Linked DNA regions of Homo sapiens. The protein of the gene in region 4 interacts with the protein of the main gene of each other region in a biochemical or structural test. Each region holds a gene or a part of one and is shown on either strand. Other genes may lie near its edges.

What was found. The genes of interacting proteins can lie anywhere in the genome.
Region 1: the proteins of AP2B1 (region 4) and NOTCH4 interact in a surface display test, tested with the Homo sapiens proteins (one large-scale study listed by IntAct).
Region 2: the proteins of AP2B1 (region 4) and ZNF786 interact in a surface display test, tested with the Homo sapiens proteins (one large-scale study listed by IntAct).
Region 3: the proteins of AP2B1 (region 4) and PPP6R1 interact in a surface display test, tested with the Homo sapiens proteins (one large-scale study listed by IntAct).

The regions. Positions count from the first base shown.
Region 1 is NC_000006.12:32,210,568-32,215,221, reverse strand, and holds part of NOTCH4 (neurogenic locus notch homolog protein 4 preproprotein), read left to right. Parts: intron 1-966; coding exon 967-1,112; intron 1,113-1,381; coding exon 1,382-1,534; intron 1,535-1,969; coding exon 1,970-2,087; intron 2,088-2,310; coding exon 2,311-2,398; intron 2,399-2,594; coding exon 2,595-2,748; intron 2,749-4,285; coding exon 4,286-4,470; intron 4,471-4,654. UniProt on the Homo sapiens protein: Functions as a receptor for membrane-bound ligands Jagged1, Jagged2 and Delta1 to regulate cell-fate determination.
Region 2 is NC_000007.14:149,071,430-149,074,872, forward strand, and holds part of ZNF786 (zinc finger protein 786), read right to left. Parts: intron 3,110-3,443; coding exon 2,957-3,109; intron 1,045-2,956; coding exon 1-1,044. UniProt on the Homo sapiens protein: May be involved in transcriptional regulation.
Region 3 is NC_000019.10:55,249,018-55,253,671, forward strand, and holds part of PPP6R1 (serine/threonine-protein phosphatase 6 regulatory subunit 1), read right to left. Parts: intron 4,575-4,654; exon of another isoform or gene 4,412-4,574; coding exon of another isoform or gene 4,409-4,411; intron 3,113-4,408; coding exon of another isoform or gene 3,077-3,112; intron 1-3,076. UniProt on the Homo sapiens protein: Regulatory subunit of protein phosphatase 6 (PP6). May function as a scaffolding PP6 subunit. Involved in the PP6-mediated dephosphorylation of NFKBIE opposing its degradation in response to TNF-alpha.
Region 4 is NC_000017.11:35,589,361-35,595,168, reverse strand, and holds part of AP2B1 (AP-2 complex subunit beta), read right to left. Parts: intron 1,162-5,808; 5' UTR 1,139-1,161; coding exon 1,102-1,138; intron 1-1,101. UniProt on the Homo sapiens protein: Component of the adaptor protein complex 2 (AP-2). Adaptor protein complexes function in protein transport via transport vesicles in different membrane traffic pathways.

The DNA.
Region 1 (4,654 bases), on a different chromosome or scaffold from region 4:
CATCTTCCAGACCCTCCCCATCTGCCCCCTCCTTTGGGCTCCCTTCGCTAGGACAGGAGAAGACAGCCAGTGAGATGTAGGTCTGTGAGAAATGACCAATGGGGAAAAGGAAGGAGATGGCAAAGTTCTTAGGGCAAGGCAGTGGGAGGGCTCAACTGGTAAGTGTTATCCAAGGAGAAGAGAGTCCACAAAAACTGGTGGAAACAGAGGACCAGGGGGTCAGAGCAGAAAGAAGAGCACTAAATCCCAGGGCGAATTAATCATTCATTAGAAAAATATCTGCTGAGGCCAGGCGCAGTGCTGATTACGGTCTCATGCCGGTAATCCCAGCACTTTGGGAGGCCGAGGTGGGCGGATCACCTGAGATCAGCAGTTCAACATCAGCCTGGCCAACATGGTGAAACCCTGTAGCTACTAAAAATGCAAAAATTAGCTGGGCATGGTGGCGCACCTGTAATCCCAGCTACTTGGGAGGCTGAAGCGGAAGGATCACTTGAACCCAAGAGGCGGAGGTTGCAGTCAGCCAAGATCATGCCACTGCACTCCAGCCTGGGTGACAGAGCAAGACTCCGTCTCAAAAAAAAAAAAAATCTGCTGAGCACCTACTTTGTGTGGCTACTGTTCCAGGCCCTGGGGGAAACACAAAGCAAAAGAGATAAAGCAACTGCTCTCGTAGAGCTTTCATTCTAAAGAAAGACAGAAAATAAGTAAGTTACAGAAAGAATATATATGTGTGTATATATATATATATATATCTCCAACTAGATATATAGATGCATATATCTAGTTGGAGAAAATGAGCAGGTGTTGGGGAGGATGGGGGCGGTGCTGAGAGCAAAGTCACTGAAGAAAGAGGCCAGAATCTCAGGGCCAAAAGAAGAGGAAGTCATAGGGGTCCAGGCAGCAGGGAGGGGAACATAAGCAGTAGGAGAAGAGAAAAACCCTCCCCTTTCTCTTTACAACCAGATCCTCATGTGTGTGTGACGTGGGTTGGACGGGGCCAGAGTGTGAGGCAGAGCTAGGGGGCTGCATCTCTGCACCCTGTGCCCATGGGGGGACCTGCTACCCCCAGCCCTCTGGCTACAACTGCACCTGCCCTACAGGCTACACAGGTGAGACCCTCCCTAAACCATATACACCCTGTGCTGGTCACCCCCTATGTCAAGGGTAAGGCAGGCGACCACGGGCCCTGAGTCTCAGTCACCACTAAGGAGAACTGGACTGCAGGGGACACGGGTGATGTGTGGGAGGTGGTGAGAACGGAGGTTGATGGGAAAGAATAATAGGGTTGGGGATGAGGAAGGGAAGGAAGAGGAAAGAGAAGGAGAGCGGAGGGAGGGAAGGAGGACACCCTTTCTCAGCCCCCACCTGTTTCCTTCAGGACCCACCTGTAGTGAGGAGATGACAGCTTGTCACTCAGGGCCATGTCTCAATGGCGGCTCCTGCAACCCTAGCCCTGGAGGCTACTACTGCACCTGCCCTCCAAGCCACACAGGGCCCCAGTGCCAAACCAGCACTGACTACTGTGTGTCTGGTGAGTGCCCACTGTGTCATGGGGCTGGGGTCCACAGGAGAATGGAAGAACTAAGGAGGGTATGCTTGTGTCATATTTTTTAAAATTTAATTGAACAGACCAGCCTGGGAAACATAATGAAACTCCATCTCTAAATTAGCTGGGCACACAGTGGCTAAGGCCTGTAGTCTCAAATACTTGGGAGGCTAAGGTGGGAGGATGACTTGAGCCCAGAAGGTTAAGACTGCAGTGAGCTCTGATGGCACCACTGCCTGGGTAACAGAGCAAGACCCTATCTAAAAACAATAAAATATCATATAAATAAAAATTAATTGGATGGCAGTGAGCTGTCGTTTTGATGGGGGTGGGGGGTGTATGTCCTATGTACAGTGTGACTGAGGTCACAGGCCAGGTTACAGGCAAGGAACCCAAACCCTCACAGCCTCCTCTCTCCAGCCCCGTGCTTCAATGGGGGTACCTGTGTGAACAGGCCTGGCACCTTCTCCTGCCTCTGTGCCATGGGCTTCCAGGGCCCGCGCTGTGAGGGAAAGCTCCGCCCCAGCTGTGCAGACAGGTGAGCAGGGCCCAAAGACCCCTAGAAGGGAGAAAACCCCTCAGCCTTCCCACCCCTCCTCTCATCTCCCCCTGGGTTCCAGGCTGCCTCCCACCCCACACCTCGTTCCGCCTTCCCTCCTGGCTTGCCACCTCCCTGTGGTTGCCTCCCGACAATATCACACACTACCTTCCCCTTGTTGCCCGAACTTCTTCCTATCATGCCCTGTCTCTGTCTTGTTCAGCCCCTGTAGGAATAGGGCAACCTGCCAGGACAGCCCTCAGGGTCCCCGCTGCCTCTGCCCCACTGGCTACACCGGAGGCAGCTGCCAGGTGAGGGCCATTGAAGTCAGGCGTGCTGAGGAGGGAAGTGGCTGGGAGGGAAACCAGGGAGGGTCACCTGGTCCCAGGCCATTCAGGAGAAGGTTTTTGAAGTAAGGGATTTCGAGGAGCTGGAGTGGGCAGAGGACCATCTCTGGGCTGAGAATCTGATGCTATGTCCTGCCTCACGCTCCCTCCCACCCCTCAGACTCTGATGGACTTATGTGCCCAGAAGCCCTGCCCACGCAATTCCCACTGCCTCCAGACTGGGCCCTCCTTCCACTGCTTGTGCCTCCAGGGATGGACCGGGCCTCTCTGCAACCTTCCACTGTCCTCCTGCCAGAAGGCTGCACTGAGCCAAGGTAACCAACGCCGGCACTGACTGGAGAGCAAATGAAGAAAATATGGGTGTTCTCACCTGCCCCGTTCCTGTGGGCTTCCACACAGCTTTTGGCCAAAACAACCATCTGAGAATCAAAACCACACAGACAAATCAGTTCTTGATTGCAGAGGTGTTGAATTGTGCAATCAGAGAAGCCTAACACAATTCCTGTTACCTCATTTAACGCAATTCAAGCAACACCAACCAGCCCATTCCACAGGATTCCAGTTTAACCCAACCATGAGGGACATGACTCAACGTGGAGCAACTCAACTCTGTCCTGATCATCATAACCCAGGCAGAGTGGACCACACTTAATCCAGCTACACTCAACGCATTTCACCCCACCCCACTCACTTCGATGTCACGCCACCCTCTTTGTAAAAGAACACTAAAATAAGGTTTGATATGAGAAGAGCTCGGGAAAGAGATTATGATGGAGTTAAGGGATAGCTGATGGGAATCACAGGGAGAGAACATTAAAGGAATGCAGAACTCAGGGGACAGACTTAAGCCACTTGTCCTCACTTGAGGCATACCTTGAATTATTTCTTGCTCAAGCCTTGCTTTAAGCCAAGAAAACAGTTGCTTTAACATTATGATAAGCTTTAGGGGTATGTCTCCAATATTCTGGCAGAAAGGGTGAGGAGAGAGGTAAAACTCGATGGTCTAATTTCTTCAGTGCCAGGAGTTATTAACTCCTTGGGCCCAGACCAGTCTCCACCCAGGAATGTTAGTGGTCCCCAAGGTAAAGGCCTCTACACCCAGAGATTGGGCCCTGAATACACCCTTCCTCCTCCTCACATACCTTATTTATTTATTTATTTATTTATTTATTTATTTATTTATTTATTTATTTTTGAGATGGAGTCCCAGTCTGTCACCCAGGGTGGAGTGCAGTGGCACGATCTCGGCTCACTGCAACCTTCACCTCCTAGGTTCAAGTGATTCTCCTGCCTCAGCTTCCCAAGTAGCTGGGATTCGTGTGCCACCATGCCCAGCTAATTTTTTTTTTTTTGTATTTTTAGTAGAGATGGGGTTTCATTATGTTGGCCAGACTGGTCTCGAACTCCTAACCTCAGTGATCCACCCGTCTCAGCCTCCCAAAGTGCTGGAATTACAGGTGTGAGCCACCACGCCCGGCCACATCCCCATTTACCGTTTCTGTTTGTTTGTTTGTTTGTTTGTTTGTTTGAGATGGAGTCTTGCCCTATAGCCCAGGCTGGAGTGCAATGGCACGATTTTGGCTCACTACAACCTGCGCTGCCCAGGTTCAAGTGATTCTCCTGCCTCAGCCTCCCAAGTAGCTGGGATTACAGGTGCCTGCCACAACGCCCGACCAATTTTTTGTATTTTTAGTAGAGACGGGGTTTCCCCATGTTTGCCAGGCTGGTCTCACACTCCTAACCTGGTGATCCACCTGCCTCGGCCTCCCAAAGTGCTGGGATTACAGGCGTAAGCCATGGCGCCCGGCCCCCCACTTATCTTTGTATATCCCTGTTTGTCTCTCTCCCCAGGCATAGACGTCTCTTCCCTTTGCCACAATGGAGGCCTCTGTGTCGACAGCGGCCCCTCCTATTTCTGCCACTGCCCCCCTGGATTCCAAGGCAGCCTGTGCCAGGATCACGTGAACCCATGTGAGTCCAGGCCTTGCCAGAACGGGGCCACCTGCATGGCCCAGCCCAGTGGGTATCTCTGCCAGGTGAGAGGGTCTGCAGGAGAAGGGGGAGGAAAGACAAGGGTGGGCTGGATGGGAGAGACAGTAGTGACTGAGGGAAGACCCAATGTATCCATTTCACCTCCTTTTATTTTTTTTAACCCCACACACCCAACTAACCACAAAGTCATGCCACTTTATCTCCTGAAGTTTTCTCAAGTCTGTGCTT
Region 2 (3,443 bases), on a different chromosome or scaffold from region 4:
TGTGGACTCGAATGTGCTCCGTGAGTTTACACTGCTTGGCGAAGCCCTTGCCACACTTCCTGCAGGAGAACGGTCTCTCCCCACCGTGCGCGTGCTGGTGGACCTGCAGCAGGCGGCGCAGGCGGAAGCGCTTGGTGCAATGCGCACACTGGAAGGGCTTTTCTCCAGTATGCGCCCTGCAGGGGCTGGCGAGCCTGGCGCTCATAGGGGAGCGCTCGCCACACTCCGAGCAGGAGCAGGGCCCCTCTGCGCCATGCTGCAGCGCCTCCGTGTCCCCTTCCTGGTGGCTGTTCCCCTCCTGGGGCAGGCGCGAGCCTGGTTTCTGTCCCGAGTGCACACTGCTGGAGGCCCCGCGGCCTTCTCTCCAAGAGGCCGGCCCCTCCCGGCTGTGCTGGCACCGGCGAGCCTGCGTGCTGTCCACTGGGAGGGAGCGCTTGCCGCATGGGGTGCACTGGGCAGGCTTCTCCCCCTGCTGCGGGAGGCGGTGGCTGGGATGGGTCAGCTCGTGTCGGAAGCACATTTCACCGTCAGCGTTCCGGAAGGGGCCCCTCCCCGTGTGGGCCGCCAGATGGCGCAGCAGACACAGCTTCCGGCGGAAGCTCTTACCGCACACGCCACACCGGAAGTGCCTCTGTACCCGAGGGCTGCTCCACGGCATCTGCGTCTCCGCCCTCTTGTTGAATTTCTCCCAGGCCCTACGTGTCCGGTCCTTTGAGTGGCCTCTCTGGTGCATTACTAAATGGTTGTTCTCCCAACAGCTTTCCCCGCAGACAGGCCAAGGGTGCTGGGTGCTCTCCCAGGCGGGGACGTCCCACAAACCAGGAAGATCCAGATTTCTGGGACCTGGGATTCCTTCTTTTAGGGTAGATTCACTGGGGCCGCAGGCTAGTGGTGGAGGAGCCCTGGCGTCGTGTCTCTGTGGGCTCCCGAGGGTGATGCCTTGGTCAGGCCTGAAGGAAACAAAGGATCCAAAGGAACACTGGCTTTCAGGATCTAATTGGAAATGGCTTTTAGTTTTTCCTGAATTCATAGCCTGCTGGCTTCCTGCAATTGAAAACAAAAATTCAGTCGGTATTCCTGTCTGCAGCACTACTAGCGATTCTCACAGTCAAGTGACCCACAAGAGTGCCTTGTGGTGGCCTGGGAACCCAGCTTCCACTGAGCTACCCAACCATGCAGTGTGATCTGTCTCATGGCCGTGAGTTTGGTGAGTCTGCTGAAACTAAACTGAACAGACATATCTTTGGATAATATTGAAAAAAGGAAAATATAGGTCGCAAATATAGAGTGTAAGCTCTGGAATCAGTCTGCCTAGTTTTGAATCCTATCTGTCCACTGTGTAACCTTTGTCAAGCTAATCTCTTTTGACTTCAGCTCCTTCTGTAAAAACATGGAAACAAAAGTACATAAGATTACTGTGAGAATTAAATGAGCTAATGTGCATGAGGTGCTTAGCATGGTGCCTGGCATAGTGCATGTACTCTGTTTAAGTGTTGGCTGTTCTCATGACTTCAGGAAAGCCAGTGTATCGCATTCTGATGTACAGACACACCTGGAGTCCCGAGCTGGAGCCCTGACCAATACCACAGTTATACGTGATCCTTGAGCCATCCTGTCTCTAAGACCTGGCAGCAAGGCTTGGGCCTATTCCTCCCTCCCTGCCCCCATTTCTGCCAATGTTTCAAGAAGGTTTCTTGGAATAATTAATAGATGGTAGAAAGTTAAGTAATTTGTGGGGGAAAAACCTTCACTTTCGAAAGAAGCACCTAAAAACAAAAACTATTTGACAAGATTTCTTGAAATGATGCTCCTGTTTGACTTTTTCATTCTGTACTTTAAGAATCCAAAAATCTCAGACTCTCTCCTCATGACAAGAAATGAAAGAGAGGAGCTCAGGTTGAAGTATTCAAGTAGACAACAGTCTCTAGTTAGGAAGGAAGCCACGTTAGTCATGAAGATCTGGATAACCATGGGCCAGGCATGGTGGCTCACACCTATAATCCCAACACTTTGGGAGGCTGAGGTGGGAGGACTGCTTGAGGCCAGGACTGCTGGAAGCCAGGAGTTCAAGACTGCAGTGAGCTATGATCATGCTACTGTGCTCCAGCCTGGGTGACAGAGCAAGATCCTGTGTCTTAAAAACCAAACAAACTGGATAACCAGTTTCTACTGAGTTCTTACTATATAAACTGTCTCTCAATATATATACACATATATATGTATACATATATACACATATATTTATGTATACATTTATATACATATGTATATACACGTGTGTGTGTATATGTGTGCGTGTGTGTGTGTGTGTGTGTGTGTATATATATATATATATATATATATATATATATGTATATATATATAGTTTTTTTTTTGAGACTGAGACTTGCTCCATCGCCCAGGCTGGAGTGCAGTTGCATAATCTCAGCTCATTCACTGCAAGCTCTGCCTCCCAGGTTCAAGCAATTCTTCTCCCTCAGCCTCCTGAGTAGCTGGGATTACAGGCACCTGCCACCATGCCCGGCTAATTTTTTTGTATTTTTAGTAGAGTAAGGGTTTCACCATGTTGGCCAGGCTGGTCTGGAACTTCTGACCTCAAGTGATCTGCCCGCCTCGGCCACCCAAAGTGCTGGGATTACAGGCCTGAGCCACCATGCCTGGCCTAACACTATATATATTAACCAATTCAATCCTGTTAACATGGGTACTTTCATTTTATAGATCAGGCATTGAAATACCAAAAGGTTCAATAACTTGCCCAAGGTCACCAAGAAAAAGCAAGATCCAGACACAGACTCTAGAACCCACATTCCTAACCATTATGCTTTACTGCCTTTATCTAGAAGATAAGAGTCTTCAAACCTCAGCTTGCCCAAACAGGATGACAAGATCAGAGAAGAGAAACAAATCTGAACATGATGTCTCAAGGTCGGGGCCCTGATTTCTTAATACTCACCCCAAAACAGCTGTTCCTCAAAACCTGGATCAAAATGCATATCAACAGAGGAGCAAATTATGTTTCCTGATTTCTGTGATTCTCTCCATTTCCTGAAGGGCTCTCCCCCGTGTTCAATCCAGGATATTAGTTCTGGTTTTGGAAGTCCATCATCTGCACAGAGAAGTCAGACAGGGTAGTTTGGCTTCCTGAATTTAAAGCACACTAAGTTTCTAAATTTCTCAACATTCACTCCTGGGACAAAGTATGAGAACAACATGTCAAAAAAAAAAAAACAGGTTTACACAAAGATGAAAAAACCGCCTACACATCCTAACAATGCCTCCTAGTCTGTCTGGGCATGTTAGATCAGGTATGTTGTTTTAATTTTGTCATGTTCCCCACACATTTAGCAATGCTGTATTTTGTCCAAAAACAAAATGGCTAATGCTATATATATATATATATTTTTAAAATTAATTATTTATTTTTTGAGATGGGTTCTCAC
Region 3 (4,654 bases), on a different chromosome or scaffold from region 4:
ATCTTGATATAACACTATATGGGTCCCTACACCTGGCCAATGACAGTTGAGGGTGGAGCAGAGGGAAGAGTTCCGTGACCAACGACAGTCATGGCGGCAGCAGGAGGACTAGGGGAGATAGCAGCAGCCTCCAGGCATTTGAACCCCTGCTCCTCTGGGGGGCCTGCCAGGTCCCAGTCCACAGCACCCAGTGACTCACCACTTACCCCTCACCAGTCCACTTTTCCCAATAATCCTTTGTTTTTGAGGAGTCTCACTCTGTTGCCCAGGCTGGAATGCAGTGGCACAATCTAGGTTCACCTCAACCTTCACCTCCCGGGTTCAGGCGATTCTTCCGCCTCAACCTCCCTAGTAGCTGGTACTACAAGCATCTGCCACCACACCCGGCTAATTTTTCTATTTTGGTAGAGATGGGATTTCACCACGTTAGCCAGGCTGGCCTTGAACTCCTAACCTCAGGTGATCCGCCCACCTGGGCCTCTCAAAGTGTTGGGATTACAGGCATGAGCCACCATGCCCAGACTCCCAATATTCCTTCTAAGGTTGGGTGTGGTGGCTCACGCCTATAATCCCAGCACTTTGGGAGGCCCAGGCAGGCAGATCACCCGGGGTCAGGAGTTTGACACCAGTCTGGCCAACATGATGAAACCCCGTGTCTACTAAAAATACAAAAATTAGCCGGGCATGGTGGTGTGTGCCTATAGTCCCAGCTACTCGGGAGGCTGAGGCAGGAGAACTGCCTGAACCCGGGAGCGGAGGTTGCAGTGAGTCGAGATTGCGCCACTGCACTCCAGCCTGGGTGGCAGAGCAACACTCTGTCTCGGAAAAAAAAAAAAATCCTTTTAAAGCACAAACATGAGTACCCGCACCTGCTCGGTGATGTGCACTCCACCAAGCCTGCATCCAGGCTCTCGTGCCCCTGCCCAGCCAGCTCACTGACTGACCTCCATGCCCACGGTGACCCCAGTGCCCTGGGGAGGCCGTGCCCCATGCCACCTCGCCAGTGCTCCTGGGGCTGCCACTTCAGGTGTCTCCTGCACAGCCCGTGGCTGCCTGAGGCACAGTGCTGGATGGATATCCAGGAGGCCCTGCGGGTCTGGGTGGATGGGGGCATTCCAGGCAATGATGTCGATGGTATCAGCCACTGCGCTCCAGCACCTGCACTGCGCTGACTACTCTGAAAAGGACTTCACAGCCATCACCTCCACCAACTCTCACAACCACCCTCCAGGGAATGGCCTTATTTTACAGGAGAGGAAACTGAGGCACACCAAAGTAAATGCCTATGCCCCGATCCAGGGGTTGGCGGGCAGTGAAGCTGGCACTCTCAGCTTTCAGAAGTTGTATTTTCAGGGTGCAGAGCCCTTGTCCCAGCACAGGGCCTGTGTAGTGGACACTTAAGGGATGAATGAGCGAGTTCCCGCTGAGCCGGCTCCAGCACTTGCTCTGCCTGAGGGACTAGCCCTGGCCACAGTGACCCCGACTCTCACCTCAGGGAGGAGCCTGCCATTTCCAGGCCCACCCTGAAGGGACCTGTCTGGATGGTAAACTCCCTGTCCACCTTGTCCCCAGCTGCTAGTGCTTACTCAACAGACATCCCTGGATTCAGGATGGAGGGCTGTGGTCCTCAGGACCCTCCCAGCCCAGCTGTGACAGCACAGTTCGGCCAGAGGCCTGAGTTCTCCTCCAACCCAGCACCACCAGAAATCTAGGGACTTATCAGGCCTCCCACCCCGACCCAGGCACCGCTGACCTCCCCAAACATAACCATCCCACCCCTTCTGCCTGCATGACCACCACTTGACGGCAGGCCCCCCACACTCGACCGCAGGCGACCCCTGCTCGTTCCCTCTCCCCACAGCCATGCAGAGCTTGCTGAAGGGAAAATCAGAACCGCCCTCTCATCGGGTCAGCGCCTGGGACCCTCAATGACCTCCCACTCCCTACTTGCCCTGGCCAAGCTGGCCTTCTGTTTTCAGAACACACTAAGCTTGGGTCTACCCCAGCGACTTTGTCCTAATAACTCACTTTCTCATCCTCAGATCTCTTACTAAGCATTCACCTCACAGAAGGGCCTTCCCTGGCCTGCCTGGCTCAAGCAGCCCCCAGCCCCGCCTTTGTCCACCACTGTCTCCCTGTCTCCCTGAGCTGTGCGTTCTGACCTGCCGCCTGGAAGCATCTCTGTGACACAGCAATGAAGCACTGGAGGTACACACTCGTGGCCCTACAATGCTTCCTCTAGAACCTTCCCCCTAGGTTACCATGGGCACCTGAGGGCAGCACCTAGCATGGAACCTGGCCCTGGCAATAAACGCTCACAAGTATTAGCTGAAAAGCAAACCTCATTTTCACAAGGCCCCAGCTCCTCCCAGGCAGGAGGCTGCCGTACCTGTCAGGGCGTTAGACGAAGTGAAATCACTCCCACTCCGGCCCCTCCCAGCCACTCCTACGGGGTCCCTAAATCAGGAGGTGGGGGAAAGTGCAAGATCGCCCTGGGCAGGCAATGGGTGTGTATTTTCCCCTGTGTCAAGAGTGACGAAGGCACCACCACCTCACAAGGAAATACAACTGTTTCCCTTCCTTGCTCCGGGAACCTCTGTGTGCACAGTGGTAACTCCCCACCTCCCCACTTCTGCCCAGATGCTAGACCTCCTCAAGGGACCATCCCCTACTTCCCAGCCCGCTTGACAAGGAATGCGACAGGCCGACCACCAAGTGTCCATGTCACAGATGAGAAAACTCAGGCTCAGCAAAGGTGACTCACCAGCGTGCTGAGGGAAGCGGGAGGGGGAATGGATTTCCTGATCTGGGTGTACCTGGGACCAGAATAATCTCAAGGGGCAACCGCCAAATTTATCATGACTCTGCCAATTTCCGGCCTAAGGCTGTGGCGAGCAAAGCACCGAGACGTGGCAAGCACACACACACAGCCTCTTTCTCCGTGGGAGACCAAGCAGGCTGATAGGCTGCCCATGCCATGCCAGCAAAGCCAGTCCCAAGGAACCACACACTGCAGGCCTCCAACTATGTGAAGCATCCAGAACAGGCAAATCCATAGAGACAGAAAAGAGCTTACAGGCTTCCAGGAGCTGGCGGGGATTGGGCGAAGTTCCTGAAAGGAAAGGGTGATTAAAAAAAAGTTCCAAAATCAATTGTGGTGATGTTTCCACAACGTTGTGAATACACTAAGAACCACTGAATTGTACCCTTTATTTATTATTTTTTTTCTTGAGACAGAGTCTCTCTCTGTCACCCAGCCTGGAGTGCAGTGGCGCGATCTCGGCTCACCGCAACCTCCAGCTCCTGGGTTCAAGCATATCTCCTGCCTCAGCCTCCCGAGTAGTGGGGACTACAGGTGCGCACCACCATTCTTGGCTGATTTTTTTTTTTTTTTTTTTTGAGACAGAGTTTCGCTCTGTCACCCAGGCTGGAGTGCAGCGGCGCGATCTCGGCTCACTGCAATCTCCGCCTCCCGGTTTTAAGCAATTCTCCCACCTCAGCCTGAGTACCTGGGATTACAGGAGTGCGCCACCACACCCAGCTAATTTTTGTGTGTGTTTTTTTAGTAAAGACGGGGTTTCACCATATTGGCCAGGCTGGTCTCGAACTACTGACCTTGTGATCCGCCTGCCTGGGCCTCCCAAAGCACTGGGATTACAGGCATGAATCACCACGCCCGGCCTAATTTTTGCATTTTTTTAGTACAGACGGGGTTTCACCACGTTGGCCAGGCTGGTCTTGAATGCCTGACCTCAAGTGATCTGCCTGCCTCGGCCTCCCAAAGTGCTGGGCTTACAGGCGTGAGCCACTGCGCCTGGCTGTACACTCTAAATGGATGAACTGTACAGAATATCTCAATAAAAACTGTTGGGGGAAAAAAAAAAACCTGCCTCAGGCCATCGGCCATGGCAGGGACAGAGCCAGGGCCAGGCTCAGGCCTTGCACTATGTCCCAGCGTCCGCAGAGCTGATGAGATGCCGGCCAGCCTGGCAGAGCTGAAGCTGCCAAGGCTCAGCCCTGGGGCACTCACCCAGGTTACCCCTTCCCCATCCCTCACCACCAACAGCTCTAAGCTAAGTGAGCCCCTCCACAGTGGGGACGGGATAGGAGCAGCACCAAGCCAGCATCTGTAGAAAATCCATGGACCCGCACTTGCAGAGACACTTGTCTCGGCTCCACATCAAGACCAAGTAAAGAATTCTTATTATTCCGACAGAGTCTCATGTGGAAGAGGGGCCCAGAGGGGTGGAGCCACATGGCTAGCAAGAGGCTTCCAGTGTGCCCTGGTCTCTAAACAACAGGCAGAAATTCTCACACTGAGGCCCACCGTTCACTTCTAAGATACCTGATTAAAGGGCACAGGCATGGCCCTCGGCCCCCAAACCCCCTACCCCTGGTACAGACTAACCATCTGCTTCGGGGAAAAGGTCAGGCTTCCCCTCCAAACCGAGCTCCCCAGACAACTGGGGCAGGGGCAGCCAGAATGAGACGGGAGGGTGCTCGCTGGTGCACGGCATCCAAGAACTTCGGCCCTGAGAACCCAGGCAGCGCCCTGAACTCTCCATCTCAAGTGGCTCCTCTGAAAATCAGAATAGACTGAAAGGCTCAAATGCAATTGAGTGGTCGACACTCTACAGACCTCAATTATCAGGCT
Region 4 (5,808 bases):
AAGTTCCCTGGCTGAGCAATTCTGATGTGTTGCCAAGACTGAAAGCTACAGACAACAAACTGACATAATTAAGCAACTCACTGCAACAAGAGAAAAAGAAGAATGGTAGTTGGCGCCATGTCTGGAATACTTTGGTAAATGTAAGGACTCCTGAACACAAAAGCACAGAATTCTGATCCTAAGCAACAAATAAAGCAAGCTAAGCTACAGGCACAATAAGCTGAGATGGGCTAAAATGTTTGTCTTTGATGGGAAGACCCTCCACATTTCTAGAAATGATCTATTTTATTTAGGAACAATTTTACAAAAGATGAAGGGTTGGACTTTCCCCAGAAGAATCCTTTGTTCCTAGACCCAAACTCATAGGTAAAAACAAGCATTATATTACTGATAACAAAGATGATGAGAGTAATAAGTGCAAAGTCCCTCAAGTAATTCCGTCTATGACCTAAAAACCATAGATGGCTCTAGAGATTCCGTTTTAAATATACATCTAGACGAAGAACATGGTAGATGTATATGGACGGATATGAAAATAACTCATTTCTATTCATTGTTTTGCAAGATTGCTTTTTCATTAAAGATAAAAAAATTTTAAATCATATGTATTAATATATGCACTCATATGCAGAGAAAAAGACTTGAGGATATACACCAAGTTCCCTTGGGAATAGGAACAGGAAGGGAGAACTTTCATTTTTACCTTTTACATACATATCTGTATTGCTTTAATTGTATTCTTTGTTATAAAATGTTTATTTCCAAGTAAAAATTATTTAATAAAAGGGAAAAAGTATGCTGCTTCTTTTGTCCTCCTCACACTTAACCAATCTCCAATGGATCATCTCAAACAGCAAAGAGGAGTCTCTTTCACTAAACAGAACCTTCAAGTCATAATAATGTGCATCACAGCCCTCTCTTTTAAAACCTACTCTTTAATAACTTGCTTGAATACATTCATCTATAGAAGTAGTAGATGTCCAGTGAGATTGTCAGCTACATGTATGTCTGAAGGAAGAGGTCAGCAGCATTCTGCCTGGGGCAATCTTACACTACAACTTTTGAAAATTTCAAAAGATTTGATTGTATTCTCATACTTACCTTTTTTATTGGTTGTGAAATACTTGGAGTCAGTCATGACTTTGGATCTTTAATGTGCACCTATAGCAAGAGAAAAGAATTCCTTCATTCAGGTTATAGATATCCAACAAGGCATCCAATTAATTTTAAGAACATCCAATTAATTTTAGGAACACTTATATTTAAGAATTTCTAAAAATGAGTATCATCTTCCTTTATCACCACCGTTGATGGTTCAAGAAAAACTAAGAATGTAACTCCTCAAGCTAATGGGGCAAAAATCTAAAGGCCAAATGCAACTGGGTAAAAGTATGAACCTATTATGGCTTTGTGATTTTATCCACAGTAACTCCTCAAAGCTTTCAAGAGCTAAAGCTGGACCTTTTTATAAATATATCTGCAATTACTTTCCATTCAGGAAAATCTGGTAACTTCCTTGCCTCAAGCTGGAATCACTCCAAAACATATATTCTGAAGCAGTGTAAGGTCAAAAGAAAAAACAATTTTGCCGATCTATGACATGAAACTTTCAATAAAAAGAATCTCTTTCAGAAAAAAAAAATTCAAAATTAGTAGGACAATATTCTTTCACAACAAACATCTAGAGAGGCAACCATGACTTATGCATGGAATTTTTTTAATTTTTAGTTTTGTGGGTATTTAGTAGGTGCGTATAGGTACATGAGATATTTTGATAACAGGCAGACAATGCATAATAATTACATTAGTGTAAATGGGATATCCATCACCTCAAGCATTTATCCTTTCTTTGTATTATAAACAATTCAATTACATTCTTTTAGTTATTTTTAAATGTACAGTAAATTATTGTTGACCGCAGTCACCCTTTTGTGCTATCAAATACTAGATCTTATTCATTGTATCTAACTATATTTTTGGATTTAAAAAAAAATGTGGCTTTCTTACTTCCAACAATCCAGATTTAGCCCAAGAGTATTCCCAAATAATGCCAGTTTATAGTTAAAAACAAGGCAAAAGACTGAGACATCCGTTCAGACACGAGAATCAAACTGGTGTTGAAACAAAAGAACGTGGATCTCAACCTCAACCTTAACTCTTCCATCCCAATTTCCAGAAGAAGTAATCCAGATGACAAATGGCTCTACTAACAAAAACGGCACAGTCTGGTCACATTTTTACTAAATAATAAGACTACTTTTTCTGATTTGAGAAACTATAAGACTTTGTCCAATGTACCAGACTTCTTTAAATATATTAAAATTTTGGGGCCAGGCACAGTAGCTCACGCCTGTAATCCCAGCACTTTGTGAGGCTGCCGGGTGGATCACTTGAGGTCAGGAGTTCAAGACCAGCCTCGCCAACATGGTGAAATCCTGTCTCTGCTAAAAATACAAAATTTAGCTGGGCATGGTGGCACGTGCCTTTAATCCCAGCTACTTGGGAGGCTGAGGCAGGAGAATCGCTTGGACCTGGGAGGCGGAAGCTGCAGTAAGCCGAGATCACGCCACTGCACTCCAGCCTGGGCAACAGAGCAAAAGTCCATCTCAAATAAATAAATAAATAAATAGGAATTTGGGCCAGGCGCGGTGGCTCAGGCATGGTGGCATGTACCTGTAGTCTCAGCTACTTGGGAGGCTGAGGTGTGTGGATCGCTTGAGCTTAGGAGATCAAGGCTACAGGGAGCTATGATCTCACCACTGCACTCCAGCCTCAGCGACAGAGACCTTGTCTCAAGGGGAAAAAAATATATAAATATACATATATTTTTTAATAATATTCCTTCTGTACTCAAAATGAGTATCTTTTTCCTTATCACCATCACTAATAATACTTATCACCAACTTCAGGACAAGACATGCTGGCACCTGCTCATTATTATCAGGTCAATATGACATAATGTATTTGGCAAACAATAGTAAATATGGATCTAGGAGAAAAGACCTAAGCACCAAACAAATCAATGTAATTAAAGAAAAGAAAAAAGAGCCAGATAAACATAAAATAATGAAAAACTTCTGGTTCAAATCTGATCTCTAAAACGTGCTACTTGTACAGTTTAATGGAAATTAGACTCATTTGCTATCTTTCCAACCAGCTAATTACTATTTATAGTCTTGATCCTAATAGCTCTTTAGATTGTACCAGAAATTCACAGAATGATCTTGTTAAAAGAAGTGAGCTAGGACTCACAAATATCATTACAGAATATAGAAATTTCTCCTTTAATACTTGTTATAATTAAAAATTATACTGAAGCTTGCCTTATGCAATGTTTTTACAATGTGTTTCTAGCAAAAATTCAAAGAATGTTATAATCATTTAGTCCATTCATAATGTAAACTAAATGTGAAGTGGGCAAATGAAGAAAGGAATTCTTCACATAAAAGACCTGGAATAAATCTGAAGTTATTTATGAATGTATATATACAAACAGAAAAACCAGTAAACAGAAACGATTACTTGAGCCTCAAAGAAGGACTATAGCTCAAATCCATTACAATCTGTCTAGGATATTTACTATGCTATGCTATGTCCTTTAAAACTTGTTTAAGATTTTAAAACAAAACCTCCTTAGAATTTGTCACCCAATTTCTCTGAAAAGCCTCTTATACATACACATATTAAATTTTTTTTGGCCAGGCACGGTGGCTCACGCCTGTAATCCCAACACTTTGGGAGGACGAGGCGTGCGGATGGCTTGAGCTCAGGAGATCGAGACCAGTCTGGGGAACGTGGCGAAACTCCGTCTCTAATAAAAATACAAAAATTAGCCGGGCATGGTAGCACATGCCTGTAGTCCCAGCTGGGACTCACTGCAACATCTGCCTTCTGGGCTCAAGCAATCCTCCTGCCTCAGCCTCCCGAGTAGCTGGGACTACATGTTGGGATCACCGTGCCCAGCCCATTAAATTCTTTTTTTTTTTTTTTTTTTTTTGAGACAAAATCTCACTGTGGCCCAGGCTCCAGTGCAGTGGTTCAATTTGGGCTCACTCCAACCTTTGCCTCCCAGGTTCAAGTGATTCTCCTGCCTTAGCCTTCAGAGTAGCTGGGACTACAGGCACCCACTACCACGCCCAGCTAATTTTTGTATTTTAGTAGAGACAGGGTTTTTCCTTGTTAGCCAGGCTGGTCTGGAACTCCTGACATCAAGTTATCCATCCACCTCGGCCTCCCAAAGTGCTGGGATTACAGGCATGAGTAAATTCTTAACAGGCATTTTCACTACATTCTATTAAACAATAAATTAACCTAAGTCTTAAGTCATACCTTTATCAGTAGCTCACATATTTCATTATCTCCCCTAACAATTTCAATGTCAAGGAATATATTACTATCCTGTTCACTGTGAGCATTAAGTGTTCTTGTCTTAACTAGAAAATAATGCACCCACCCACAAAATTTCAGGGAAGAGAGGAGGGTCAAGTATCTTTAGAAGCCTATAAGATAGATTCTAAATTAAGAGTCCCTGCTGCTCTAAAGAGAAGGGATATCACTCTAGTAACCATATTGTAAACAATAGTAACAAAATATTCCCTAACCATATTGGCAGAGAAACATGGTGCCAAGCTGGTTCTTGCCTTAAGCCAAAAGAAACTCCAAGAAAAATGAAAATAGTGTAAATAAAAACAAATCAGAAGACATGATTGTTGCACAACACTGTCAGTGTACTAAATGCCACTGAACTGTATGCCTTAACCTGGTTAATTTTATGGTACGTGAATTTCACCTCAAAAAAAAATCACATATATATATGATTCAGTGTATCTCTCATATAATGAGTTCTCACCTCATATAATGAGAGATACACTTAATCACATGCTAGATATGGACATAGCCAGAGTCTCCAAAATACAGGATGGCAAAAACTGACGTCTTCATTAGAAGTTACAGCCGGTCGCGGTGGCTCACGCCTGTAATCCCAGCACTTTGGGAGGCGGGCGGATCACAAGGTCAGGAGATCGAGACCATCCTGGCTAACACGGTGAAACCCTGTCTCTACTAAAAATACAAAAAATTAGCCAGGCGTGTGGCGGGCGCCTGTAGTCCCAGCTACTCGGGAAGCTGAGACAGGAGAATGGTGTGAACCCAGGAGGCAGAGCTTGCAGTGAGCCGAGATCGCGCCACTGCACTCCAGCCTGGGCGAAAGAGTGAGACTCCGTCTCAAAAAAAAAAAAAAAAAAAGAAGTTACAGAAAAAGTAAACAAAATAGAGCTAAAGAAAAAAAAAATCTAATATTTGCTGAAGTGCCTCAAAAATCAAGCTGCTCCTATGGGGGGAGAAAATGTTCCTTCAGAAGAGCCAGAGAAATAAGCAAAGCCATGATGGAATTTGAACTCACACTACCTTTCTACCAGATCAAACCAGACAAGTAACGGCTGTTCTGAGGATTTACGGTATGGCCTAAGGCCACTGTTAAACAACAAAGCTGCCAGAGTCAAAGCACATAATCACTCTTACTTGCCCTCGACCAGAGTGTGATGTCACTGCATTTCGGAGAAGGCCTCCCTGCACAGGACTATATATCCAGATTTAACATAACCTAGTTTCTACCAAATATAGGTTGTCAAAGTCCCTCCTCTCCTATATCTCCCTCCAGTTCCCCAAAAGAGAAACTGAGCAGCAAAATAAGATTAATACCTTGGGTAGAATAAGGTCAGAAAAAAATTAATAGGGTCTTAATTCAAATGGCTCTCTGGGAAGCTAAATTAGTTTGTAAAGTCACTAAACCCTTCTTTTCACAAAGTG